Linked DNA regions of Homo sapiens. The protein of the gene in region 2 interacts with the protein of the main gene of each other region in a biochemical or structural test. Each region holds a gene or a part of one and is shown on either strand. Other genes may lie near its edges. The genes, in order: GIPC2, ADGRA1, HTRA3 and FRMPD3.

What was found.
Region 1: the proteins of ADGRA1 (region 2) and GIPC2 interact in a test that uses a peptide from one of them, tested with the Homo sapiens proteins (one large-scale study listed by IntAct).
Region 3: the proteins of ADGRA1 (region 2) and HTRA3 interact in a test that uses a peptide from one of them, tested with the Homo sapiens proteins (one large-scale study listed by IntAct).
Region 4: the proteins of ADGRA1 (region 2) and FRMPD3 interact in a test that uses a peptide from one of them, tested with the Homo sapiens proteins (one large-scale study listed by IntAct).

Annotation. Positions count from the first base shown.
Region 1 is NC_000001.11:78,048,966-78,052,465, reverse strand, and holds part of GIPC2 (PDZ domain-containing protein GIPC2), read right to left. Parts: intron 1-3,500.
Region 2 is NC_000010.11:133,088,740-133,096,840, forward strand, and holds part of ADGRA1 (adhesion G protein-coupled receptor A1), read left to right. Parts: 5' UTR 1-170; coding exon 171-173; intron 174-8,101.
Region 3 is NC_000004.12:8,279,489-8,287,253, forward strand, and holds part of HTRA3 (serine protease HTRA3 isoform 1 precursor), read left to right. Parts: intron 1-2,948; coding exon 2,949-3,048; intron 3,049-7,072; coding exon 7,073-7,295; intron 7,296-7,765. UniProt on the Homo sapiens protein: Serine protease that cleaves beta-casein/CSN2 as well as several extracellular matrix (ECM) proteoglycans such as decorin/DCN, biglycan/BGN and fibronectin/FN1.
Region 4 is NC_000023.11:107,559,372-107,567,472, forward strand, and holds part of FRMPD3 (FERM and PDZ domain-containing protein 3), read left to right. Parts: intron 1-885; coding exon 886-1,022; intron 1,023-1,355; coding exon 1,356-1,482; intron 1,483-3,739; coding exon 3,740-3,829; intron 3,830-5,515; coding exon 5,516-5,695; intron 5,696-8,101.

The DNA.
Region 1 (3,500 bases), on a different chromosome or scaffold from region 2:
TAACTACTGAATTGGTGAGGATCCTTTTATTCAACAACTATTTTTTAAACTCCAACTATAATATGTTTCAGGCAAAGTCTAGGCCCTTGAGGGCCACATCAGTAAACAAAGACAAAAATCCTTGCCTTTGTGGAGCTTCTATTGGGGCAAGGGGGCAGACCATAAACAAAATAAGTTAAATATACATAGGATAGTATGCTACGGAGAAAAATTAAGCAGAGAAGGGAACAGGGAGTGTTGCACCTAGAGATGATCAGTGCTAGCCTCACCAAGAAGATGACATTTGAACAGACTTAAGGAAGGGCATTCTGTAGGAAGAGGTTCTGGCGGAGGCAAAAACCAATGCAAAAGTCTTAAGGCTCCAGCATTCAAGGAGACCAGTCTGGCTGGAGCAGAAGGAACAACGATTCTGAAGAGGTAACAGAGCCCGTAGCCCATCATAGTATTTTGGTTTGTTCCAAGTGAGAGGGGAAGCCATGAAAGGTTTAGAGCAGAAAATGAGATACAAATTGTATCTCAGAGACAGCAACTTTTGAAGAGTTTTGCTAAAAAGGAGAAATGAGGTGGTAATACAGGGGATGGGAACAGGTGTCAAAAGAAGGTTTGTCTGTTTAAGAGAAATAACAGCATGCTTGTGAGGATAAAATCTCACCTTAAAAATCACAATTCTACGCCAGGTGCGGTGGCTCATGCCTGTAATCCTAGCACTTTGGGAGGCCGAGGCAGGCAGATCACCTGAGGTCAGGAGTTCAAGACAGGCCAACATGGCAAAACCCCGTCTCTACTAAAAATACAAAAATTAGCTGGGCATGGTGGCATGCACCTGTAGTCCCAGCTACTCAGGAGGCTGAGGCAGGAGAATCACTTGAACCCGGGAGGCAGAGGTTGCAGTGAGCCGAGATCACACCACTGCACTCCAGCCTGGCAACAGAGTGAGACTCCATTTCAAAAAAAAAAGAATAACACTTCTTGCCTTTTCTGCTTCTCAAGTACTCTGCTTTCTTTGACTGCTTTATGTATGGGGAGAGAATAAGTCACTGAATTACTCATTTATTATTCAATGAACTATTTGGTATCTAATATCACACGCAAACTAATCTAAACAAGTAAAAGGAAGTAATTTCTGAATTCTGCAGAGAAACTGCATCTGAATTTCCAGTTTCTGGACATGTAAAATTTCTAACTATAAAATTTATCTTTTTTTTGTTAATAATATTTCTTTGTTATTCTTTTAATGTCCAAGGATCAATAATGATGACATCATTTCTTTTTTTTTTTACATTTTACAAAATGAATGTATTGAGCAAAGTGGGGTTCTTTTTTTTATTATACGTCTTTTCTTAAGTTTTCACATTCATTATTTTTTCCTACAATATTTCCACATAATAGAGAATTAGGAAAATATATCATGGTAAAAACTACTTGCCAAACAATTACAGTAGTCAAATATTCAAAATGCCCCTTCAACAAAATGTATGACCATAGCTCGAGAGTTTCATGTAACCTGGATATTTTAAAAGATGGTATGTATTGGCCGGACACGGTGGCTCACGCCTGTAATCTCAGCACTTTGGGAGGCTGAGGCGGGCAGATCACAAGGTCAGGAGATCGAGACAATCCTGGCTAACACAGTGAAACCCTGCCTCTACTAAAAATACAAAAAATTAGCCGGGCATGGTGGCAGGCACCTGTAGTCCTAGCTACTCAGGAGGTTGAGGCAGGACAATGGCATGAACCCAGGAGGCGGAGCTTGTAGTGAGCTGAGATAGCACCACTGCACTCCAGCCTGGGCGACAGAGCGAGACTCCCGTCACAAAAAAAAGAAAAAAAAAAAAAGATGGTATGTATTAAACTTTCTCAAGAAGAGTCTTTGCATTTATGTAGGAGTTAATTGTTCTTTAGATGAGATTAATTTACAGGGTTTTTTTTCTTTTTACTGAATTGTTCATTTAATTGTTTTGAAAAAAGGCATCAGATATGAGGGATTTTTGCATAACTGGCCATCTGTCTCAACTTAATAACAAATCTTAACTGATTCACAGCCTTCATTAGCTTATTCCTTCAGGGACCACAAAACACTAGCTGAAGTCCACAACTGTCAGTCTCACATCAACATCTTTTTGAGGCAATAAATATTTTTGTGGTTAAGTCTGAGGCTTTTATTGAAAAAAAAAATTTGTTTACAAAAGACGTTTTTCCAGGTTAGTGTTTAGAATTTGAATGCAGCTACCAAGAATCTCACAGCTGCTATGTAATAGACTTGGAACCGGCCAGGTGCAGTAGCTCACGTCGGTAATCCCAGCTCACTTTGGGAGGCCGAGGTGGGCGGATCACCTGAGGTCAGGAGTTTGAGACCAGCCTGGCCAACATGGTGAAACCCCATCTCTACAAAAACACAAAAATTATCCAGGCATGATGGCGTGTGCCTGTAATCCCAGCTATTCAGGAGGCTGAGGCAGGAGGATCACTTGAACACAGAAGGCGGAGGTTGCAGTGAGCCACGATCACACCGTTGCACTTCAACCTGGGCGACAGAGCTAGACTCCATCTCAAAAAAAAAAAAAAAAAAAAAGAGGTTTTTCTGGGTTCGTATTTGGAATTTGAATGCAGCTACCAAGAATCTCACAGCTGCTATGTAATAGACTTAGAACCAGGAAACCAGAATTCAAATCCTGGCTCAGCCACATACCAGCCTATTTAACTTCTCAGAGTCTCACTTCACTAAATTGTAAAATGAAAAGATTCTGGTGAGGATGGAGTGAACACACTGTAGGCTTACAGGCCTAGCACAGCTGTGGGCACATTATGGGCCCTGATTATCTGCTCCACTTGACATCAAGTCTTTTCCCTTTCTCCTCAATAAAGAGTGGCTAGCTCTTCATGTAGTGCTATTTATATCCTTACAGCCACCACTCTAGAAAAAAGGCAGGACTTCTGAGTTAACTATCTATTCAATCCCATTAAGGGGGGCAAATGTTTTTGTCCCCACTGACATCTCAAAAGTTATTTACATCACAGGGCTGGGCGTGGTGGTTCACGCACTTTGGGAGGCCGAGGCGGGCAGATCACCTGAGGTCAGGATATCAATTCAAGACCAGCCTGGCCAACATGGTGAAACCCCGTCTCTACTAAAAACACAAAAATTAGCCAGGCATGGTGGTGCATAATCCCAGCTATTAGGCAAGCTGAGGCAGGACAATCACTTGAACCCAGGAGGTGGAGGTTTCAGTCAGCCAAGATCGTGCCACTGCACTCCAGCCTGGGCGACAGAACAAGACACCATCTCAAAAAACAAAAACCAACCAAAAAAAGTTGTTTACATCATTATTGCTGAGGTAATTGCTTGCTGGGGAAATGGGCTATGAAAATGGAATCTCCTTGGTGTGCATTTCATTTTAGTGAGTTACTTCTGTTTCAGAGTGAACCACTGAAATATTATGCGTACTATGCTATGATGACCAATACTTTATTCTGCATATAATTAACTTTTTCTAATCCAG
Region 2 (8,101 bases):
CCGCGGTCACCCTGAGGCCAGGGGCCCGGGAGCGCGACCTCCTGGCCGCCGTCTGGGACTTTGACCTTCCAGAGGCCATGGAGGCTGGCGGGGAGCAGGGCGCCACCTGATCGCCTCCCCCTGGACGCCTCCTCCAGCGGCGCTCACGCTTCCGCAACTTTGCAGCGCTCATGGTGAGTACGGGGGTCCCGGGGGTCCTGCAGCTGGGGGCTAGGCCGCTGCGGGGGGGCGGCCACCCGTATGGGGACTCCCAGGCTGGAAAAGTTGTGGAATGGCGAGCTGGTGACCGGGCTTCCGGGCTCAGTGCCGGGGTGGGAGGCTCTGTGGAGTGGGGGCCGGGGACAGGCCGCGTGTCTGGGCACCTCTGCTCCCCGCGTGCTGGGTGCTGATCATACTAATGAGTTGCAGGCATATGGCAATGTGGAATCATTTAATCAATGGAGGCGACGTCCCTCCCGCAAAGCTGGCATCCGTGCCCTGTGAAAACCTGGTCTGTGCCTGGGCTGGGGTCCCTGCCACCCCAAGCCCCTCCACCCTGGTCACCGGCCTCCTCCACGCCACCCTGCCGGCCCCTTCCCATTAGAAAGTTGATGAAAGGCAGTGCGGACAGACGTAGGTGGGCTTCAGCAGTGGAGGCTGTGGCGGAGAGAAGGCGGCCGCGCACACGGCAGGCACGGGAAGGGTGTTTCAGCGGGAAGGGGCTCGTGGCTGGCAGCTGGCTGGATCGGCTAGCCGAGCCCATCGTGGGTCCCTCCCTGAGGCACCAGCAAGCTTTTGCTGCAGTTGCTGAATGTCTGGGTTCCGGAAGGGCTGACAGCTGAGTGAACAATGCATTGTGTGTGCTGGTAAGGGACAGCTGACAGGCGGTGAGGACCCAGGGCACGTGCAGAGAATGCCAATGGCCTCTAGAATGTGCGGCCGCCACAGACGCCGGCTGGCGTGCTTCGGAGCAGACCCAGTGTTCGCTGCATAAGGAGCCATCGGTCTGAGTCACTTGCTCATTTTCTTCTTGTTCCGTTCGAAATGTCCAAGCAAGAGAGATGCCTTTGCCAACATTCAGTATCGTCTTCCAGTGGCTGCTTCACCTCTGAGGCTGGCTGAGGTCTCCGCACTTACCTTTCAGACACCTGACAAGGTTGCGTCTCCAGCACCAGCAGCACCTCAGGGGGCAGCAGGCCAGCCCCAGGGCTCCTGCCTGCCCCCAGGCTCCCACCAGCCTCAGGAACCATCGCTGTTGCCCCGCAGGTACCACACCCAGCGCAGCCCCAGGCCTCCCAGTTGGCAGGATCTGTGGCTTTTCAGCCTCAAATTGAGACCCTTATTTGCAAAATGGAAAACTGTCATTGACAGAGGACAGTGAACGGAGAAGGGCTTCTGAAGGTGGGGGTGCTGCCGCAGCCCGGGGGTCCCTCTCATCCCCTTCCTCGCCTCCTCCTCTCTAACCCTTGGCCCTTCTGCGAACAACTGTGCGGGGGCCTCCCCAATCCAAGAAGGGCACCACCCCTCGCAGGCTGAGCCTGTTCGTGCACTCTCCTCTCAGCTCCTGGCTCCTGGTGGAGCTTCCTGCTACCACCTCCTCGGCCCGGGGCCACCCGGTCCCAGCCGGCCTGGCAGCCCAGAGCTCCTGCTCACCCAAGACTGTGAAAGCCTGCTGAGCTCGATCTGCCTGGAGAGTGTGGCATTTCAGCAGCTCACTGTTTTTATTCACAACAAGTAACATTTGCACCTGAGAAAATCTCTGAAAGTGTGAGGAGTTGCCCTCCCGTGCTGCATCAGTCTGGTGCAGCATTTTTCTGCATGTGTCTCCAAGTTCACAGCGTAGTGTGACAGCGTAATTCACAGCACGTGTCTCCAAGTTCACAGCGTAGATACCTGGGCAGGCTCACCCCATGGCCATGGGGTCTTGAGAAGGAAGCCTGGAGGCCGTGGCCAGGGCAGGGTGGCCCTGACTCTGCCTGCCCCACTGCTGTGCTCTGGGGGGCTCCTGACGCCTGCCAGGGGCAAGCTGCCTGCTGAGCTCCCAAGTGTAAGGGCATAGGGCACAGGTCACAGGTCAGATTCTTTGGTGGCATCGCTCCTGGCCAGGCACAAAGGCATGAGTCAGCCCTGGATTCTGAGCTGCTGTCCAGCAGCTTGGCTGGGCCAGGCCGTCCTCTCAAAAGGCTGGTTTGTCGGCCCATGGTGCTCTACAGGATGGACAGTTTGCTCCCCTCTGGAGGACCTGCAGGCCACCTGTCCAGTGGTTAAAGCTGGGGCACCTCCTTCTGCAAGCTGTGTCTCCGTCACCACTGTTAACGAGCAAAAGCAAATGTGAACTTGCCTGTCTCCGCAAGGGGTGCTATCAGGACTTACGTTCCAGCAGGCTCCGAAATGAAATAGGTGTCACTTCGCACCCTGTAACTTGCAGTCCTCACACTTAACTCAGAGAACAGTTGTTCTCGAGGGCCTGAATTTGAGGCTGAAAAGCCACAGATCCTGCCAACTGGGAGGCCTGGGGCTGCGCTGGGTGTGGCACCTATGGGGAAACACCTGCAGGGTTGGATGGTGTGGCTGGTGCAGTGTGGTTGCCGTGGGATGGGCGGTGTGGCTGGTGCAGTGTGGTTGCCGTGGGATGGGCGGTGTGGCTGGTGCAGTGTGGTTGCTGTGGGATATGGTGTGGTGTGAAGATGTCGTCTGGCCCTCTGTGGCTACTTTCATTCCACAATTGCAATATTTAGGTGCAGCTGGGAGCATGAGCTCATCGTCCCTTCAGGGTTCAGGCCCTGTGCCGATGGCACCATTGCCTGGTTAGCATCTGTGTTTCTATGTGGTCATCTGTGAGCTGCCAGCTTTCTGTGAGTAGGGTGGAGGCTCTCAAAGGGGACTCAACCGAGCCCCTTCCAGCTCTCAATTCAGGGCTGACTCTTGGTCATCAGAGGCGCTGTTTGCTGCACCCTGCATGTTCTCAATGCCGGGATTGAGTGCGAGGACAAGCTTGGGCTGGGGGACCCCAGAGACCTGGTGTGTGTAGGGAGCTCCTTGGGTCTAACACTTCCTTCCCCAGCTTCTGAAAGGACAGAGTGCCTTCGAAACCTCCAAGGAGACGAGGCGGGTAGCCAAAGGGTGAAGACCTCCAACCGGAGGGTGACAGGCCCAAGGTCAAGGCCAGCCTCCTGGCGGTGCCCCCAGGAAGGGGAGTCTCGGAGGCCGAGAGTGAGGAGGAGCCTGCAGCTGCTCCCCGAGGCCGGACCCATGTGAAGTCCGCCCTGAAGAGAACCAGGATCGGGTCCTGGCCCAAAGGCAGGTTGTGGGAGACTCGGAGCTCTGAGTTGTTAGGAAGTACGTGAGCCCACATGAGGTGGGTTTATCTCTGCTCAAATTTTACCCCTTGGCCTCTGCCAGGAATGGGCATTCAGGAGGTGGGAGGGGCCCGGGACGCAGGGCCTCTCACAGGGCGTAAGGATGGTCGGTCGCGCGTACGAACATTTCAGAGCTATACTGAGTTCTTTTCAGCTAGTTGTTTTTTAGTCTAATATCTAAATTACTAAAAATGGCTACAGTCTACTTCCTTCATCTCACAGATGGAGAGTTTGTCATCCCACCTCACATCTTCCCGAAAATTAAGAACTTTAAGCAAGTAACTACCAGTCTAGAAAGAAAGCGTCTATGATATTTTAACACTTTTTTCCCAAATCTCTTCAAAACTTCACTAGCCCATCTACTCCTCCAAGAAGAAAATCATAACGCACCTTACAAACGTAATGCCGACTATGGGTCATCTGTGTTCTGGAGGAATAAATTCTTCTCCTCTACCTTCCACCTTTCCCCTGGAACACATCCATGAAAAGTTGACAGATCAGTAGATGCAATTATTATTTAAAAGGCAGACAAGGGAATACATCAGGCTCTCAGGAAATCAGTGTTCATTGGCACAGAACCAGGAAGTAAAACAGGGAGAACCAGAAAAAACAAGAAAGAGAAACAGGAAGAACCAGGAAGAAGCACCTGAATGAAGAAGGAGAAATAGGGAGGGAGGAAGGAAGGAAGGAAGGAAGGAAGGAAGGAAGGAAGGAAGGAAGAGAGGGAGGGAAGGGAGGGAAGGAAGGAAGAGAGGGAGGGAGGGAAGGAAGGAAGGAAGGAAGGAAGGAAGGAAGGAAGGAAATGAAGGGAGCCTGAACCTGGAAGAAGGAGAAGGAGGACTGGAAGCACCTGGGAGGATATGTGTTCCTTCCTCAGCCAGTTGGAGCTGCAGACCTGGCCCCGGACACCTCACCGTGCAGGAAAGAAGGTTCCTCAGCCAGTCGGAGCTGCAGACCTGGCCCCGGACACCTCACTGTGTAGGAAAGAAGGTTCCTCAGCCAGTTGGAGCTGCAGACCTAGCCCCGGACACCTCACTGTGCAGGAAAGAAGGTTCCTCAGCCAGTCGGAGCTGCAGACCTGGCCCCGGACACCTCACCCGCAGGGAGGAAGATTCCTTCAGGCAGCTGGCATTCCCCAGGTTTGAAGAGGTCACTTTCCCACCTCTCACTGCTGCAGAAAGGTTAAGTTTTGATCAGAAAATTCACACATAACTTGACCGACTGCTTCCTTCTCATCTTTCCTCCTTTGTTTTTGTCTTTAACACCCTGACCCACTTGATTTGCAGAACACACCAAAGAGGAGACCTCCAATTAAAATGAGGGAAAACAGAGGAGGAAGTTATGACTAAAGAAAGAGGAGACACAAATAAGCCAGAGCACGAGTCCCACGCACGCCGGGCTCACACGCTGGCGGGACTGTTGGCTCCGAGGCCGGCAGATGGGAGATGGATGCCCGCCTTCCCCAGGGAAGCAGAGACATCTCTGGGTGCCTTCTAGAGCAACCTGGGCCATCCTGCGGGCACAGAACCAAGCTGGCATTCCGGCCATTTCATCTGGGCCAAGAAGGTCGGGGCCACCTTCATCCGCCCCTTCCCAGCCCCCTTGGGTCCTCGGAACCGTGTTCTTCACCCCCCAGGAGCCTGGCTGCATTGCGAGCCGAGGGTCCAGGAACTCTGCTTCTGACTTGCTGGCTCACCCCTGTCAGCCAGGCTCTGTTCAGCCACAGATCAGACCAGCAGGCCTGGGGAACACTTGCAAAGAAGAATCGGTGCATGTGCAAACTTTAAAAGACAACACACGTCTCCACTGCACATGACCCACTTTGAGTTTTAAATGTCACCTCTGAAAATGTAGACAGGCACTGTTGATAACTGTAATTTGGAGACAAGAAAAAGAAAAGAAACCAAACCAAATCACACATCTGTTTCTTATAAAACATCTTGTTGACACACGGATCATTGCACAGGTGAGGACCATGGCCCAGGCCTCCAGCTCACGCGGCAGCTCCAGGCGTCCACGCCTGCCCTTGCCGCCTCAGTCCGTGTGAAACCTCACAGCTTGGCCTTCAGACGAGAAGCCCCACACAAGGCGGCGTGGCCCTCGCTGTCACTGGAGCTTGGGCGGCCTCCTCCCAGCGCAGCCTGCACCTTGCACTCGCGCCCTGAGACGTTTGCCTCTTGCATGAAAAGCAGCTCTGATTGGGCTTAACATGAAGGGGTTTGTGTTTGTGACTAAAAGCCACAAACGGGAGGCTAAGTCTCCTTCTGGCCCTGAGGATGGAGGCAGCGGGACAGGACGCGGCTCGCAGGCACCAGACATCAGGGCACACACTTTCCTGGCTGCCATCTGCGCCTCCGCCCACAGTGGCACCGCCCCTCGCCCCCGTAGCTGAGCAGGAGTCTGAGTCCTGCAGGAAGGCGCGGCGGCCACAGCAGCCCCAGGGAGGCCGTGAGAGGACGCGTGAGGGCCCGGGGCAGACCACCCCAGGCTCTTCAACACAACAGATGAGAACGAAGTCCTTGTTCCAGGCGACTCACTGAGGAAATGCTCCGATAGACTCGGAGAGGGCTGGACACAGAGTGGACCCCACTCTCTTGGCTTCTCTCGCGGATCTGGGTTTGCAACAATGGCTCGTCGGAACTGTGTAGAGCGTTCAGGTTTATTTTAGACCCTGGGTCAATGTCTTGGAGGAAAAGCCATTGACTCTCGTGGAAGAATCCTGGGGACAAGAATCTGGGGCGTCGCTCACGCCCTGTTAAAACTTCAGTTCTTCTACCCACATGGGGCATTCTCCACCTCCCAGCAGCAGATAACTCACTGGATAACCTGATGTCGGGATTTGGCCGGGAAAACATGCTTTTCTGTGACTTTGGAGCTGTTTGCACGTGGCAGGAAGTGGGCGCCTACTAAACCAGCAAACGTGGGACAACCAGCCTGGCACCGCCCGAGCCACGCCAGAGCCCCCATGCATCGTCTCCTGATGGCAAGCACTCCAGTAGCCAGAACACCAAGGAGGGACGTGCGAATGTCCACAGTTGGCCGGGCTGTCCCTGGGCTGATCTCTGGGGGAAGCAGGAGCCCCAGCTGGAGCTCGGACCGGACACTCACCCCACGACTGTTGCAGGAGGCAACTGACGCTTCGGGCTCTGGGGCACTCAGGAGAATCTGGACAGAGGCCCACCCAGCTCACCTCTTTACAGAGGGGCAGAGTGAGGGTGGGGCTCTCCTGGGCCCTGACTCCCCCGAAAACCCTCAGGGGCCTCTGTCCAGGGTGGGCCTCAGAGCCAAGCCTGAACCACAGGGCGCTGTCTCTCTGTGGGGTCCTGGTGTCCAGGAAGAAATGGGCAGATTCTAAACACTCCCCGGAAAGCAAAGTGTCTGCTGTCACTCCAGCTCTGCGGCCCCACAGCGACGCCCGCTCCTCTCCCAGGTGCCTTCGCCCTCGCACAGGTCCAGGCTCCTCGTCCCGGGATGCAGGGCCCCTCCGGTGCCCGCCTGGCCAGTGCTGTTCGAACCCTGGGGCAGGGGCCCTATTTCGGGCTTTGACTGTCAGCCAGTCCCTTGGCTCCCCAGAGCACCCTCTGTCCACGGTGGACACTCTCTAGCCAGCCAGGGCCTCGTCTTGGCTGGACGGACAAGAAGTGTGGCCTCAGGAGGGAAGCAGGAGCTCTCGGGCCCGCTGGCTGCCTGCATCCCGACACAGGTGACACTGCCTCTGCCCATGGCCCTTCCTGCACAGGAGGGTCCCTCTCCACTTCCCGCCTCACTCAGCCGGAGCCATCCCAGAGGCCCGGCCGGCTGCCTCCTCCTGCCCCGATGCCCAGGGCAGCATCCATGGCGTGGTCAGAGTGGCTGGAGCCTGGCACAGGTGCAGCGATCACCAGGGGGCTGGGGAGGGGCCAGGCGGCTGCAGCCCTCACCCCTGCTGGCACCCACCCACAGGGTTCTTACCGGAACATGGCACCCACCCTGCTCGCCTGCCTGAGGTTCATAACTAAACCCTACACAGTGGGGCCCTGAAGCACAGACATGTTTCCCACAGTCTGGAGGCTGGAAGCCTGAGACAGAGCTGAGTGCAGGCTGGTGCCCCGAGGCCCCCTCCTGGGCCTGTGCACGCATGTTTCTGGGCTGATGCCCCTGAAGCCCCCTCCCCAGCCTGTGCACCCCTCTGTGCTTCCCCGGTGAGCTCACCTCACTCACCTGATGAAGAAAAGATGAAGCTCCATCAGCTCCAAGCCTTTCCAGCTGGGTCGATTTTCCCCCAGTCTACTCTGCCACAGAGAACACACATTCCCCTTTGAACTCTGACCCTGAACCCTTTTCTTGGGCCGAGAAGCAGGTGGAGTTTGCGGCCTCCGGTCCAGGTCTGTTGGTGCCGAACAGTCTCCACTCTTTCTCCACCTCTCGCAGAAGCTCGTACAGAATCCTCCCGGAAGATGTTGACAAGCAGGGTTTCGATGAGTGTGGGGCTCCCAGTGCAGGGCTGGGGCCATCCCATGGTTTCCCTGCCTCTCTGTAAGGCCCATCCAGATCCCACCTGGCCACCCGCAGGCCACGGGAAGAGAGGAGGCTGGAGGCAGGCATCAGTCGGCCGATACATGGCCCCAGGAGCCAGCCTCAGAGCCACACAAGGATGCCTTTGGCCAGCAGAGCCAGTGGAGGGCGAGGACAGACAGCACTCCGTGGCCACGTGGGGCCCCTCCCGTGCACTCCCTGAGCATCCACAGACGCAGCCTGACCGTACCTCCCCAGGCAGCCCCCCT
Region 3 (7,765 bases), on a different chromosome or scaffold from region 2:
GGGGCCCAGCAGCCCAGGCGCTTGAGGGGGTCCAGGGGCTGGGCTTTGGCAAGCAGGGGGTGGACACGTTGGGGTCCAGAGAGCTTTCCGGCCCTGGGTGTTGGAGTGTCTGAGTCCAGGATGGAGACACACAGGAAGGCAGCCTTTTCTAATCACCTGTGGGAGGAGAGGTGCTGCCATTCCTCCTTCTGCTGTGTTCACACTGGGCCCAGGTCCCTGTGTGCCGTGGCTGCCTGCACAGGCAATGCGGGCTCAGCCTGTGGCTTTCCATGTGCTGTGCCCCTGCCCGTGGGCTCTTCCAGGCCTGGGTCAGGGCACCTCTGCACTCACCCACCCCACGCCGGGCTCCTCTCTGCCTCATCCCTGGTGATGCTGTGCTGTCTCTGGTCGGTCACTGACTTGACCCTTGCCCCCAGCTGAACCACTGTGTCTCCAGCAGCTGTCACAGGTGGGCACACAGGAGGCACCCTGCACGAGTGGCTTGAATAAGGCTGTGAGCAGCGGCAGATTCGGTACAACTGGGGCTGCTGCGGGGCTGCCTGGAGGAGGCAGGATTAGGGCCGGGCCCAGGACCAACCAGAGCATCTTGGTAGGGAGAGTAGAGAGAGGTCGTGCAGGGGGAGGTGTAGAGAGGTGGATGATGAGCAGAAACTGGAGTTGGTGGCCCGACAAAGGCCACACGGTAGGAGAGGTAATATGGTCCCACCTGGGGGCTGTGCCCGTGCCCTGGCGCTTCTCCTCAGGCGAGGCACATGGGGCGCCAGCCTCAGGCCCCAGGGCACACAGGGGAGCAGCAGACCGGCTGAGTCCTCCCTCCTGGAGGGAGGAGGGCCTGGGCCTGGGGGTTGCCCTGGGATCCCTCTGGGTCGTGGAAATTGTGGGTCTGAGCGCATCTTGTGAGAGCTCTGAACCAGCTCCAAACCTCACCAGGGAAGCAGGCTTTGTGGCTGGTGTCCTTCCTCTCTACTTGGGTGCTAGAAAATGAACTCAAGTTCCCAGGGGCAGGGAGGAGAAGCAGACAGGCCTGGGCTGCCCACTCGGGCCGCACGGCAGCTTCACCTCACCAAGGGAGCCGCCTGCTTTGTAGGTGTCGAGCAGGGCAGCGCATCCCTCATGGAAGCAAACGTGGGCAGAGAGAGCCCTGGGCCCACAGCAGGCCCTGCCCCTGGGGTGTTTGTTAATGTGACCTCTGAACCTGAGACCCCGCTCTGCCGCAGTGGTTTGATCTATGAGGAGCCTCGCGGTGGCCGGCGTCTCCCAGCCAGGCTCTAGCCACCCCAGACAGGTGGCCTTTGATTCAGGCTGACTGAAGTGGACGAGGGCTGGTGTGGTTGGTGCCTGCGGGCCGGTTGAGAGGCAGACATCGGAAGTCTGGGAGACCCAACACCAGAGCTCGAGCCAACCCCCTAGGTCCCAGCTCAGGCTAAAGGGCTCTTCAGGGCCTTGGGGAGCTGCAGGGCAGAGGTGGGGGCACCCAGGGAAAGGAGGCCTGCGGCCTGCGTTCAGATCCTGGTTCTCCCCTCCCAGCCGTGAGTCCTTGGGCAGGGGGGTTCTTCTTACAGAGCCTCAGTGTCCCCACCTTTAAAATAGAGGAAAAGTTTCCTTCCCCTGGCTGCCCCTGGAGAGTTGGGTGAATGAATTGGGATGTGCCTGGGGATTGTGTTTGCCCTGTGATGATTCCTAGAGCACGGACCGCGGCCCGGGCCCTGCCCCCACAGTGGCATCCACCATGGTACCTTCGTGCCTTTGGACGATCCAGAAAACCAGATTTTCCCTCGGTCCCCATGCCCGGCCACTTCCCAGAGATCAAGAGAAATGTGGGCTGCAAAGCTGGAAAGCTGGACGTTATGGACTGAGCCCTCTTTGCTCCCCATTGCCAAGGTGGCTGGGTGGGTGGGTAGCCCCCCGGGCAGGGACTCGAAGTTTGCAGTCCTCCACACTCAGTTCCCACAGATGTGGTAGGAGGGCATATTCAGTCCCATTTTTCAGATGAGGAGTTGAGGCCCAGAGAACGTAAGTAATCTGTCTGAGGCCACACAGCTAGAAAGCAGCCAGGCCCAGCCGAACCCCTGGTGTGTGCAGCCCCCAGCCCAGTTGCTCATTGCGGGGCTCGGGAGCCACGAGCGAGGCTGAGCAGCATGTGTTCCAGATGGTGGGAACTGGAGAGAGCCCGGCACAGGCCCGTGCAGGGAACCCCGAGGGCTGTGGGCCCCGTGCCACTGCATGCCTCAGGCCTGTGGTCCTGGCAGCCACAGCCCCTACTGCTGACGGCAGCAGGAATCTGAGCCCGGGAAGGGTCCAGGGAAGTTCGTGAACCATCTAGCAAGTCGGGCTGGGGTGTGGCCAAGTTAGACACAGATGTAGGGCCCTGTGGACTCAGAAATTGGCAGCTCTTTTGGCCCAGAGGGGCCACACTGTGTCCGGGCCTGGGTAGCTCAGAAGGGTCACCTGGGGGTCTTCCACTACACCCCCGCCTGGACACTGCTGTAGCCCCAGGGCTCGGAGGGACCAGCTGGAGCCCATGAGGAGAGGGCCAGTTCTCTCCTGTAAGGGTATTGCTGTAGCATGAGGGAACAGACAAGGCCCAGGGGGACTAACCCGAGATCCAGCCCTGGCCTCACTCCCGTGTGGCTCACGGCAATATCCTAACCTCTCTCTGAGCCTCCTGCCCAGCCTAGCAGGGTCCAGTGAGGGGGGTGAGGAAGCCCAGCACGTGGAAGCCTTTTTAACCATTCTCGGGGTGAGCGAGCCCCTTCCCAAATGCCTGGTGTCACTGCACTGCTGTGTGGTAGGGGGTCCCCAACGGGCTCAGTGTGGGCTGAGGCTGGCTCTGAACTGGGACAGGGGTCTCAGGAAGAGCCTCCTCCTTCTGCCCACTGGGCATAGGCCTCTGGGAGCTGGCAGCATCGTGATCTCACTGATGCACCTGGCCCTTCCCGCCAGCGCAGGTCTCCACCAGCTGAGCAGCCCGCGCTACAAGTTCAACTTCATTGCTGACGTGGTGGAGAAGATCGCACCAGCCGTGGTCCACATAGAGCTCTTCCTGAGGTGGGTGAATACCCCTCGCCCCTCTCTGCCTCCTGGTGTCCCCTGGTACACCCGCCAGCTGCTGGGGCCCAAACCAGGCTTGATTCTGCAGCCTGGGCCACAGAAACTGGAGTGGCCTGGGGTCAGGCTGACCTCAGTCACATCTGCTGGCTGCCTGTGTGCCCCTGGGGAAGGACATCCCCGCTGAAGTGACTCCGCACCTGCTGGAGCTGTAGGCACCAAGAAGGTGCACAGCTGTGGGTCTTTGTCCCTTCATGCTGCTGCCCATGCTATTGGATACATGCAATGTGTTGGTCGTCCTGAGGGGCCGTGCAGTAAAGCAGACACAGACAGAACCCAGCGGAGGAGATGCCAGGAGACAGCAGGTGTGTGTGCAAGGAGCAGAGGCATGGCAGGCAGAGAGCAGGGCTCGGGGCAGTGGGAACCGGGGGCTCGGGAGGCCTCACAAGCTAAGCCTGAAGTAGGCACCCCGGGAGCTGGGCCAGTGGATGCAGGGCAGTGGGGGCAGCTCGCAAGCACCGAGGCCCGTGTGGCCGGAGCGGGGAGGAATGAGGGATGGGTGAGTGAACGCACGAATCAGTGCATGGATGAGTGAGGGGAGGAATGAGTTAGTGAAGGAAGTGGCAGAATGAATGAGTGAGGGAGGGAATGAGTGAGTGTCCAATGGATGAGTAAAAGAATGAATGAATGAGTGGAGTCGGTCAATAGGGAAGCGGGATGTCCCAGCCCCGTAGAGGAAGTGGTGTGTACCGTGTGGCTTCACCCCCGAGCAAGGCCTCTCCTTGCAGATGCACAGGCAAAGCCTCCTCCCCTTCTTCCCACAGGGCCTGCCCCGGTCCCTGCCACCATCCCCAGCCTCTCCTACTTCCCCCATCACAGAGACCCTCTGAGCTGGTTTGGGGGAGCCCTGCCTTCAGAACCTCCCGCTGTGCAAGCTGCCCAATGTCTGATCGCTCACACCGAATCCTGAGGGCTCATCCCAGATTGACTTATATCCCGCAGAAGCAGACTGAATGACTCTTCTGAAGTTTAGAGTGTTTCTCCCATCCACCTTTGCTGGCCCTTTGGTCCCTGGGTGTGCACAGAGCCGGCAAACAGCCTGATGAGGAGGCCCCGGAACCAAGCCTCATTCCACCCTGATAGGGATCAGACGGCGGGTCCAGGCGGACACGGAGCCGGCAATGAGCAGTCACCAGAGGCCGCAGGCCAGGGCTCCAGGGACTTGCTTGTTTTCACGGTACTTTCCCTGAGGCCTCCAGCCTCCCTGTGACGAGGCTCCACTGCCCTAGGCCCGGCCCTGGGGACTGAGCATCTGGTGGCTCATGGGGAGATCCCAGGAGTGATTCCTGCTCCAGCACCGCCTCCCTGCTGGCTGGCTCGGCGCTTGTCTGGTCCAAGCCCCTGTCACTAGGCGTCACGGCCCCTCTGCCCTCCCCATCCCGGGCTCTCCAGCAGAGGTCGTGCTCCTTGAACAGGGGTGTGAGAGCGCGTGACGGGCATATAGCACCTCAGCATCACATCCTCCACACCTGCTGGGAGCTCCCTGGGCTGTGGGCTGTGTAGCCCATGTTTCTCAAAACAGCCCTGGAGGCACCACCCATGCAGGACCCACAGCCCTGGTTGCCACCCTGTCCGGTGCCCCGTGCTGATGGACCTCTCACTGCCCCCTTGGCAGCACACTGACCCCTCACTGCCCTTCCCTCGAGCCCCGGGCCCTGAGACATGTCATTGAGGAAATTATAACTGGATGCACTAAGTGGCACGTTGCTGGCCTTCCAGGAGGTAGGGATGGGGGCAGCATCTTTCTGGAAGGCCCCAGCCACCAGGCTCTGAACCAACTAATTACTGACTCCAGCCCGGCTGGGAGGCCGTTTCTGCCCTCAGAGCCTCCAGTGACTGATGCTCTGAGTGGGTGGGTGAGACCCAGCAAAGATGAGACAGATGCTTTTCCAGCACAGGCCTCCCGGCTGTGACCCCTGACCTGAGGTCTGAGTGTGGGCATGGAGGCCAGTGGGCAGCCGCGGGCATTTTCTGCAGACCCCGCAGGTGCCTGGCCCTGTGAGGCACCCTGGGGCTTCCGCAGGCAAAACAGGTGCAGTTCCTACTCTGGGGCACACACGGAGTGGGTGTGGCAGAAGCTGGCTGCGGATGTGAGTGGACAGATGCTGGGGTCACCGTGTGGGGTGGCCAAGTGGCCAGATGCCCAGGCTGCCTGGGGCAGACCCCTGCTTTGCCCTTTGCCTGCCCGCCTGACCTAGGCAAGTAGTTCAGCGTCTCGGGACTCAGTTTTCCCACCATAAAGACCTGAGAGTTAGGGACGACAGTAGTTTCTTGTGGCTGCCATAACAAAGTACCACAGACTGCATGGCTTAAAATGACAGAGATGTTTGCTCCCATGGTTCTGGAGGCTGGAAGTCCTAATCAAGGTGTCAAGGTCCTAATCAAGCAGGGCTGCTTTCTTCTGGGGGATGTTGGGGGAGTGTCCCAGGCCCCTCTACTGGCTCTAGTGTTTTCCGCAGTCCTTGGTACGCCTCGGCCCTTAGACCCCTCTCTCTGCTCTGTCTCCATCATCTCATGGCCTTCCCCTCTGTGAGACTGGACTTCCCTCCCTTAAAGACAACACAGACACACTCTGATGTCACCGTAACTTCAGGACACCTGCAAAGACCCTGTTTCCAAATAAAGTCACATTCACAGTCACATGGGGTTAGGACTTGGCCGTATCTCTTGGCAGGGATACAGCTCACCACAGCACCCCCCTTGCAGGGTGCCCATGAGCATTCAATGGCCTGCCTGCCTCAGAGGGAGCACAGGGTGGCATTCGCTGCCATCTCTGGTCCTGTGGGTCACAGCGAAGCTCCTGTACTTTGCAGAGACTGTCACCTCCCTGCACGTGCCAGACGCTCCCATCCCTCCATGCTTTGTCTCTTGCTCTCACCTGCCTGCACGTGCCAGACGTTTCCATCCCTCCATACTTTGTCCCTCGCACATTTTCCTTGCTCATCTCTACTAAGCAGCCTCAGGGAGTGAGTACCTGCTCTGGGCTGGGCCCCACGCTGGGGTCCCGAAGGTTCCCACCCTGGAGAAGGTCCCAGGCTGTGTCTGGCATTCAGCCTCCTCCCCTGCTGGATGTGGGGCTGTGGTTTCTACTCAGAGAGCTCTGGTGAGAACTGGGGATTGTTGCCCATCGGCAGACACCAATGCAAACCCAGGCCAGCTCCACACCGTTCACAGAGGGCAGGGCCCAGGCTGGCCTCATCTGTGCCTCTGCACCCCTGCCCTCGGGGTGTCCAGGGCTCGGGTCCTGCATCTGCCTGCTGCCAGCACTGCCACATTTGGGGCTTTAGGCAGCTAGCCTGGGGGTGAGGGTAGAGGGAGGTGGGAATAAGCCTTCTCAGCCCTCCCAGCACTCACCCTGTCGGGATGATCAGGAATCTGCCCCAGCCTCTGGGGAGCCTCCCTTCCTGGGTACCTGCTGCAGCCCTGCAGGATGCTGTGTGTGCAATGGGGCTTTTCCCCTAGGGCCAATTATTGTCCTGTTTGTTGAGAGGCGTTTTAGAGCCCAGGCATCACCACTCGGCGGAGGAGGTGTTGTTGTCCCATTTCCCAAATGGGGAGACCAAGGCTCAGAGAGCTTCACTGACCTGCCCACGGTCAGGCAGATAATAAGTGGGTCCTGGACTTGGGATTAGCATCCTGGTCTGTCTGGCTCCGTGCTCCGTAGTCAGGATGGCGAGTGCAAGCTGGGAGTCATCTGACATGTCGCAGGCAGCCTGTCTCATCTCAGCAAATTGCAGCGAGAGGTGATCATCATCACCTCTTTATGGCTGTGAATGGGTGCAGGCGCCGGTGACTTGGCCAGGTCACAGGGCCAGGATTCAAATGGGAGCTTGAGGGACTCCAGACCTGTGTTCTGTCAGCCACACACTGGCTCTGCTCCTCGCTGACCAGCCCCACCACTGCGCCTGACTCCCCCGCGTCCTAGCCCCACCCTAAATGCCCGCCTGTGTCTCCCTGGCTGCAGACACCCGCTGTTTGGCCGCAACGTGCCCCTGTCCAGCGGTTCTGGCTTCATCATGTCAGAGGCCGGCCTGATCATCACCAATGCCCACGTGGTGTCCAGCAACAGTGCTGCCCCGGGCAGGCAGCAGCTCAAGGTGCAGCTACAGAATGGGGACTCCTATGAGGCCACCATCAAAGACATCGACAAGAAGTCGGACATTGCCACCATCAAGATCCATCCCAAGGTGGGTGGGCGTGGGTGGAGGGGCGGAAGCACCTGGGGCTGGGCATGGTGGCCTCTTCCCAGACGCCGGAACCCAGAGGCAAGCTAGCCCCACCTTCCATCAGCCAGGGGGAGGAAACTGGGCCCAGGGAGGACTGGCAGCTGGCCCAGGGTCACGGCTTGGAAAAGACCTAGAACCCAGGTCTTTGGACTCCTTGTCCTGCGCTCCCTGAGCCGCTAGGTGCAGGGCAGAGCCAGGAAGCATGTGGCCCACAGTGGGTGGGCTGTGGTCCCATATCACACCCCACGGAGGCTCTTCACTGTCTTACCTGGGCCCACTACTGGGGATGCACCTGCCCCATGGGATGGCATCTGGGTTTGGGCGTGGAGGCCAGGGGGCTGCCGTGGGGAACACTTGGGACAGGGACCCCATCCCTCCACCTTCACGTCTGTACCTCCCACCAGCTGACCCAGAAGAGGCCTGCACTGAGG
Region 4 (8,101 bases), on a different chromosome or scaffold from region 2:
ATAAAGGACTTAAGCATCCACAAATTTCAGTATCCATGGGGGTCCTGGAAGAAATCCTCCATGGATACCAAGGGAAAACTGTAGTTGTAGTAGTTTTTTGTAATAGAATCCACTGAATTTTCTACATAGATGATCATTGATGATGTATTCCTTTTCCACTCTCTCCTATATTATAGTGATATCACTGTGGCTTCCTAGTCCCTTAGTCCATACTGGTTCCACTTTAACAAAATGGGAAACTGGTCTAACCAAGGCTGACTCATTGATAGCTGGGGCTGTGACCCTCAGGGTTTGGGGGTTGTCATACCCTTGGCCAGTAGTTCCTGGAGACCTCCTCTAGGATAGCATAGGGAAGATTGACTCATCAACATTTTTGTCCTTCAGACACCAAGAAGAAGAATGCCTCCCCCATCCCTGCAATTCAGCTCTCACCCTGGGCTTCTGGGCCAGGGCCCTGTGGAGAGTCCCTCCCAGTATCTTTCTCCCCTTGTTTCCATCTGAGCTAGTAAAGGAGCCTTGTATGGCTTGGGGGTGAGTATAACCCCCATGAAAAAAAGTAGGAAAGTCTCTTATAAAAGGAGGAAAGAAAGGGAGTGGTGCCATGTCTCACTTTTGCAGTGAACTGGACTGTCTGCTTGTACCTTGCCATTGTGTGCCCCTGTCACTGAGAAGGCTATCTAGTATCTGCTGAATAAAGTGAACAGTGTCTATGAGACCTGAGCCTCCTCTGTTGTCTCTTCTCCAAGGGGAGCTCCTTCCTCTGTCCCTTGATCTAGCATGCCTTACTGATACTATGAGTATTGTCTGGGATGTAAGGGAGTAGATCAGGGGGTGGGGAAGGAATGTCTCCTTCAGCTGATAGGTTTGGACTGCCCTCTCTCACAGAGTCGGAATGATGTTATTCGAGAACGCTTTGGAATGGATCCCAAGCCAGAGATGCTTTTGGGCCTTGCTGCGCTCCACATCTATATCACTGTCTCAGCCACTCGACCTAGTCAGAAGATCTCGCTCAAGAATGTGGAGTGAGTTGTGCTGCGGCCCGTTGGGATGGGGGGCGAATAGTTGCGTAGGGAAAAGGTACACTGGTTGAGCTATGCTATGCTTTTCAGAAATGTAGGACATGGGATGGGAGTGAGAATTGGAGTCCCTCATATCTAGACTATGAAGCCCTAGAGCTACAGCTTCTACTAGGGAGCTGTGGCTAATGTTATTTTCCTATCCCTGTCCCTTTTTCTTTCTCCCAGTCTCTATTCCTCCATCTCTACCTCTCAGATTCAGTCAATTTCTGTCTTACCATCTTCTCTCTGTCCCACTTTGCCTCTCTCACTAATCTCTTACTTTTCTTCTGCTTTTAGGAAGGAGTGGGGCCTGGAACCCTTTCTTCCCCCCTCCCTCCTGCAGGTCATCAAAGAGAAGAACCTCCGGAAATCTCTCTCTCAGCAACTGAAGGCTCACCAAACACATCCTTCCTGCGGCACCAAGGTATCCAGAGTAGACCACTGGGCATGGTGCTCCAGGCACTACTGGCCACAGGGAGATCCTGGGTGGTTTCCCAGCAGAGTCTGGTCCTCTAGGGATCCTCACCACTGCTTTTGACTCAGGTGCACATACGGCTTGGCCAGGTGTGGGGCAGTTGTGGAGAGGAGTCTTCCCCAAGCCTGAGCATCCCAAAGAGACAGCTGAGTGACACATCACTGAGAGAGCTCAGGGTCCTCAAAGCAAAGGGGCCAAGATGCAGGAGATAATTCTCAGGTCCTTTTCACCAATTAGTCAGTGCCGACTGAGCATGTATCATGTGGAAAGCACTGGACCCTAGGGAGGCACATGTTTTCCATGGAAATGACTAGGCTGGTGTGGTGGCTCATGCCTGTAATCCCAGCGCTTTGGGAGGCCAAAGCAGGAAGATCACTTGAGCCCAGGAGTTTGAGACCAGTCTGGGCAACATAGTGAGACAGCGTCTTTACTTTTAAAAAAATAATTTAAAAAAAATGTAAAAAAAGGAAATGTACCTCTGTACCTCTAATTCATCAGTCCTAGGGTGTGGAATTCTGGGAGACAAAACCCCAGCCCAGGGGAAAGTGGGAGAGTTGGGGGCACAAGACCTGACCTGGAGAATGGGTCACTGGGTGGAATGGTGAGGGATCAGGTTACTGCCTCCACTTTCTAGTGCTCTGAGGGACTCCCACTGTCTGCTTTCCCAAGCCCCGCAGCAGCTTCTTAGCTTTGTAAGATTCAATCTGCCTGTGCTTCCTGCCCTAGAAGCAGGAGAGTGGTGAGACGCACTAGAATCAGCATGCAGATGTACATATGGGACGCAATCGCCCCATACATTCCTCCCATTCCAGATTTCTTGCATTACCAACTAGCTTCTCTTTTAAGATGCAAATTTCCCCGGAGAGTTAAGCCATTCCCACCTTGCTGTGAATATTTAATCAGATTGTTTTCTTCTCAACTGAGAGCATCAGTGCTCACCACCATCTCCTCAGGTAACATTTTTTTCGAGGCACCCCAGTGCTTGGGTTGGAAATATGAAGATGAAGAGGGCCTGGTCTTGGCCCCTGAGTCAGGCACAGTCTAATGGGGAAACACATTAGTCAGTCCCAACACAGTGCATTAGGCACAGGTGCTCTGGAAGCACAGAGGAAGAACACTAAGCCCAGCCTGAGGGAGGTGGAAAAGGCCAGAGCTGGGTCTTGAAAGACAGATAAGAGTTTGTCTAGATTAATCCGTGGGCATGGGTCATGGGAGGAAGTGTTTCCCAGGCAGAGAGATCCATCTGTACAAAGGCCCAGAGATATGAGAAACCATGGTGCAAGGACAGAAATGCAAATCATTCAGCCTAAGCAAGTACAGAAAATGCAAGCTGTGTGCAAGGGGTGAAGATAGGGGCAAGAGAAGAGGCCAGAGAGGTTGGCAGGAGCCAGTTCATGGAGGGCCTTGTGTGCCAAGGAAAGAGGTTGTACTTCATCCTCTAGGCAGCTGGGAGCCATTGAAGGGTTTAAAGCAGGGAGCTGATGTGATTAAACTTATGTTTTAGGATGCTCCCTCTAACAGTGTGGAGGCACTTGAGGGAAAGAGGGAAACAAGTGTCAGTCCTGAAGGTAACCTGGCTGTCACCCTGACACAGGTGGGAATGTCAAGGCAATGACTGGCTAGAGAAGAGGGATGGATAGATTGGAAAAGGAGCTAGGGGGTAAGTATCCAGATGATCTGGTAACTGCTGGCTCTCACATGAGGCGATTAAGGAGGAGTCCAGTGTGACTCACAGGTTTCTGGCTTGATTGCCCAGGGGATGCTGATATAGACCAGGAATGCCTGAAGTGCAGGCTTGGGACTTAGGAATGCTTAGTATGAACGGTATTGAGTGGGACCCCCAGCTGGGGAATGACCAGCATGTACATGACTCTAGGGGTCTGAAACATCTCAGGAGAGAGGTATGGATTAGGTGGGGCGTCAGTTAGTTGGAATTAAACCAAAAACAAAATGAGTAAGCTGGATACTTTAGGAATGAAGATCAGGAGGTAGGACAAGATTTTAGAAAGGGAGATGAGATACTAGAGGGAAGAGCTGTCCAAACTAGAACCTTGCTGCTGTTTTAAGAAGGGCATCTTCACATCTCCACAGTGTCACTTGCTGACTGGTGCCTGTCCTAGGATGTTGAGACTCCTCGTTGAGAACATGGGTTTGCTTTTCCTGTGCCCCTCAGGCTTCTCATATTTCTGGATGGGTTTTTCCACAGGGCTCTGCAATTCAGGCAAAGCTCCAGTATCTACGAATTCTGAATGAACTTCCTACCTTCACGGGCGTTTTGTTCAACACTGTAGGCCTGGTCAGTGGCGCAGGATTGGGGGATGTGGGGAGGGAGCCCCTTGTTGGCTCTTGTCCTTGGGTGTGGGGGCAGGAGGGGCAAATATTTCTAAAGGCCTTCGTTCCTCTTCCTCCTCCTTCTACCTCTTACCTCCCTGGCCCTGCCTCTGCCAAAATGATAAAGTGGGAGGAGATATTTGTTTTGAGTATCCCTCCATGACCTTTTTTTGTTCCTCTTCCTCGATTTGGGGGCGCAGCATACTTTTTCCATAAAGGGCCAGATAGTAAATATTTTAGGTTTTGCAGGCGGGCCATACTGGCAACTGTGGCAACTACTCAGCCCTGCTGTCAGATTATGAAAGCAGCCACAGACAATGCATAAACAAATGGGTGTGGCTGTTTACCAATAATTATTTATGGATACGAAAATTTGAATTTCATGTACTTTTCACATGTCACAAAACATGCCTCTTCTGATTTTTTTTCCCTACCATTAAAAAATCTAAAAACCATTCTTAGCTCCTGGGCCATAAAAAATAGGTGGTGGGTGGTATTTGGCCCATGGGCCATGGTTAGGCAACCCCTGCTCTATTTCATTTTTGTTCCACATACTCCCACAGTCCCCTACCCTAGGTTTCCTGAGTCCTTCTACTTCTCCCCCTGCTTGCTCAGCACCTTTGCTGCAGGAACAAGGCTCTGGGGCAGGGCACAGCTGGTCCCACCCTAAGACTGTGCCCCAGGCTAGTTTACCCTGGTGAAAGGAAATTCAAATCACCTTGCTAATTGGATCCAGGTGCTTGTCTTGCTCCCAGGAGCACATTGTCAGCTAGTGCGGCACATCGGTGGAAAGCCACTTATCAAAGTGCCTATAGACAGGCACAAGAGGTTCCTCAGGGTGATGCTAATACCAGGGAATGGGCCTCCAGACGACCCAAGCTTGATTGCTCCAAGGAATCTGTCAAGACCTCTTAAGGGAATCCAGTCCTTCAGGCCGAGAGGTAGCCATTTACATACTGGGATTTGCAGAACACTGAAAGCCCACTGTCCCCTCCCACCTCCTTCATACACTGTCAAATCTTTCTTCCACCCACCTACCACTGCTAAAATTTCTATTGGCCATACCTGCTGGAGTGCCCATTAAAAGGCAAATCTCTGCTTAACGAGGGAGGCTGCCATGAAGTACCCAATCAACCCTCAACACCTTAGGCAGAGTTACTGTGCCAGTTTAGTTTTTGGCCTGGGTGAGAAGTGCAAGTTTGAGTGGCTGTTGGTGGGGGGAGGGTAAAGACCAGACACAGGATGCCGCCTTCTCAGGCAGAGCACTGGGTGGGGGCCTCAAATGGCCTGCAGCAACAAATGGAAAGCCCCTGGGGCTTGGAAGGGGAGGGTGCTCCAAAGGCCCCCAAACAAACCTCACCTACTTCACGGTTTTGCTTGAGCTAGCCCTTCTGCCTGTGCACTTTACTCAACCTGCTGCTGAGGCTAAGGTGTTCATTTGGACCCATAATCTGGGGCTCTATCCCAGGAACCATTTTCTGTCCCAGACCATTTTCCCCTCCAGGTTGTCCTACTGTGGCACTGAGCCCCAGATATTTTCAGACCCCACCAGAGAGTCCAATGCATGTTTTCTATTTCCTCCTCCTGCCTCCTCTCCCCACCTCCTCCACCCTTCCTTCTGTGAACGTTGCCTGCCATTCTTGGGCACCAGGATGAGAAGCAGTCGGCCACCACGCTCCTGGTGGGACCCCGTCATGGCATCAGCCATGTTATTGACCTCAAAACCAACCTCACCACTGTGCTGTCCGAGTTCAGCAAGATCAGCAAGATCCAGCTGTTCCGGGAGAACCAGGGCGTGGCCCGGGTGGAGACCAGCATCATGGATGCCAAGGTAAGCCCTGCTTTGAGGGCCTCCTTCTGTTTAGGAACAGGCCTTGGGAATAGAGGAAGAAGTAAACTTGAGAAAGAGAATTGGAATCTGTTAGGTGAGGTTCAGTAATTCTGAAGTGGTTCAACCCTGGGACTCTTTGGGCTAATATGTCTCTTCTCAGCCCTCTGGGACATGCCATTTTGACCACATAATAAGGTCAGCCAGCACTAAGGAATGCTATGGAGAGTCAGATCAGCCTGAGACAGTTCTTCAGCACAGGGCAGGGAAACTGGAGAACTTGGAGCTACCCCCAGACCACTGCTTCCCATTTTTCTCATATCATAGCACACAGAAAATTATATTCACAGGCCGGCATGGTGGCTCATGCCTGTAATCTCATGCTTTGGGAGGCCAAGGTGGGCAGATAACTTGAGTCCAAGGGGTTTGAGACCAGCCTGGGCAACATGGTGAAACCCTGTCTCTACAAAAAATTACAAAACTTAGCTGGGCATGGTAGCACACACCTGTGGTCCCAGCTACTCAGGGGACTGAGGTGGGAGGACTGCCTGGGCCAGAGAGGTCAAGGCTGCAGTGAGCTGTGATTGCACCACTACACTCCAGCCTGGGCAACAGAGTGAAACCCTGTCTCAAAAAAAAAAAATAAAATAAATAAAAAGTAATAATAAAGAAAGAAAAGAAAAAAGAAAAAAAAATTATATTCATGTGGAACACTGGGGTAAATGTAGCAGCCCCAGAGACTCTGTCCACCCCAGGTTCTGCCTGGCTGCCCCAGAAACTATAGGAATGAATATCTTGGCCCATCTTCACCCATTCCATGTGCACAGCAGTTGGGGGGCCCTGCCATAGGGACACGCACCTTGAGTCATTGAAGAGAGGGTGTCTGAGCATGTGAACAGAACAGAGGGGGCCTGGGAAGAAGGGGAACATGCAGAGCCTTGTCCTTATTTCACCTCCCAGAGTCCAGCCCTTCCAGAACCTTAGATTCATTCCCATAGATCAACTCCTTCGGACTGGCAAGCAGCTGTCGCCTGTGCAAAGTCTGGCAGTCTTGGTCAGCCACCCCCTCCACAGCTCTCCTGTTTGAATACCAGTGACCACTGTGGGTGGGGGGCAGGCCTGCCTGCCAGCTGGCGGAAGCTCTTAGAGGAGTTGCAACTTTCCTTTCTTAAACGATTTCCCAGGGGGAGATATTGGTAGCAGATTAAGAGGTGGAGTGTTTGCTGTTTCTAAAAGAGAAAATTATTTGCTTTATTTTTGTCTTTGTGAAACCCAGAAAGCTTTAATGTGTTGATTTTTCCACCTGTGATTCACAGGATTCCCATTGGTTTAGGAACTGGCTTGGAGCCGATGTTTAATTGGCTTGCGGCTACCTCCTCAACCAATGGTTGCTGCACTCCTCAGATGTTGTTGGGTAAAAAGCCAAATGGACGGGCAGAGAAGGGGGCAGGGAAGACAAGGCATGCAGGGGAGATGTGGCTTCCTGAGAAATAAAAGGGGTTTAAAATAGAGACACAGCTTTCCAACTGAGTCTTCTATGTTCTGAGTGATTCTCAACATTGACTACACAATAGAATGTCCTTAAGTGCTTTAAGAAAAAAACAGATGCCTGGGTCCTACTCTCAGAGATTATGATTTCTTTGGTCATGGGTGAAACCCAGGCATCAGGATTTATTTATTTTTTTCAGTTTCCTAGGTGACTGTGTAATGCAACCACTTTGAGAATGCACAGGCTTGAGACCTGTATTACCAGAGCTCTGGGAGGAAACAGGCTGAACAGGGGATCAGTGGGTGTTGTCTGAGTGAGGAGCACTATGCTTATTTCTAGGGGTGATCCAGCCACAGTTGTGGGAATGAATGCTGCCCTGGAGAGGCTACATTGTCATTGGGGAGACTAGATTCACAAAGACACATGACCTGCCTTTAAAGCACAATATCAGAACATGTATAGAGCTCTGGAATCAGACAAGGCTCAAATCCCAGCCTTCCTGTGTGACCTTCAGAAAGTGTCTTAACCTCTCTGAATCCCGATTCCCTCAACTGCAAAATGGAATGCCTATCTCAAAAGGTTTTTATCAGGATTATTATTATTATTTTTAATTTTAGAGATGGGGGTCTTGCTATGTTGCCCAGGCTTGTCTTGAACTCCTGGGCTCAAGCAGTCCTCCCAAGTCGGCCTCCCAAAGTGCTGGGATTACAGGCATGAGCCACTGCACCCGGCCTGTTGTGAGTATTAAATGAAAAAATGTACATAAAATGTCTTAGCATACTGCCTGGCACACAGTAAGTACTCAATGAATGAGACCTGTTATTTTTTCAAAAGCAAAACATCAGTAAAGAAAAAGTAATATGAAGTAAATGTTACAGACAAGTGTGATGTGGAATATGGAACAAAAGAACAGGAAGGAG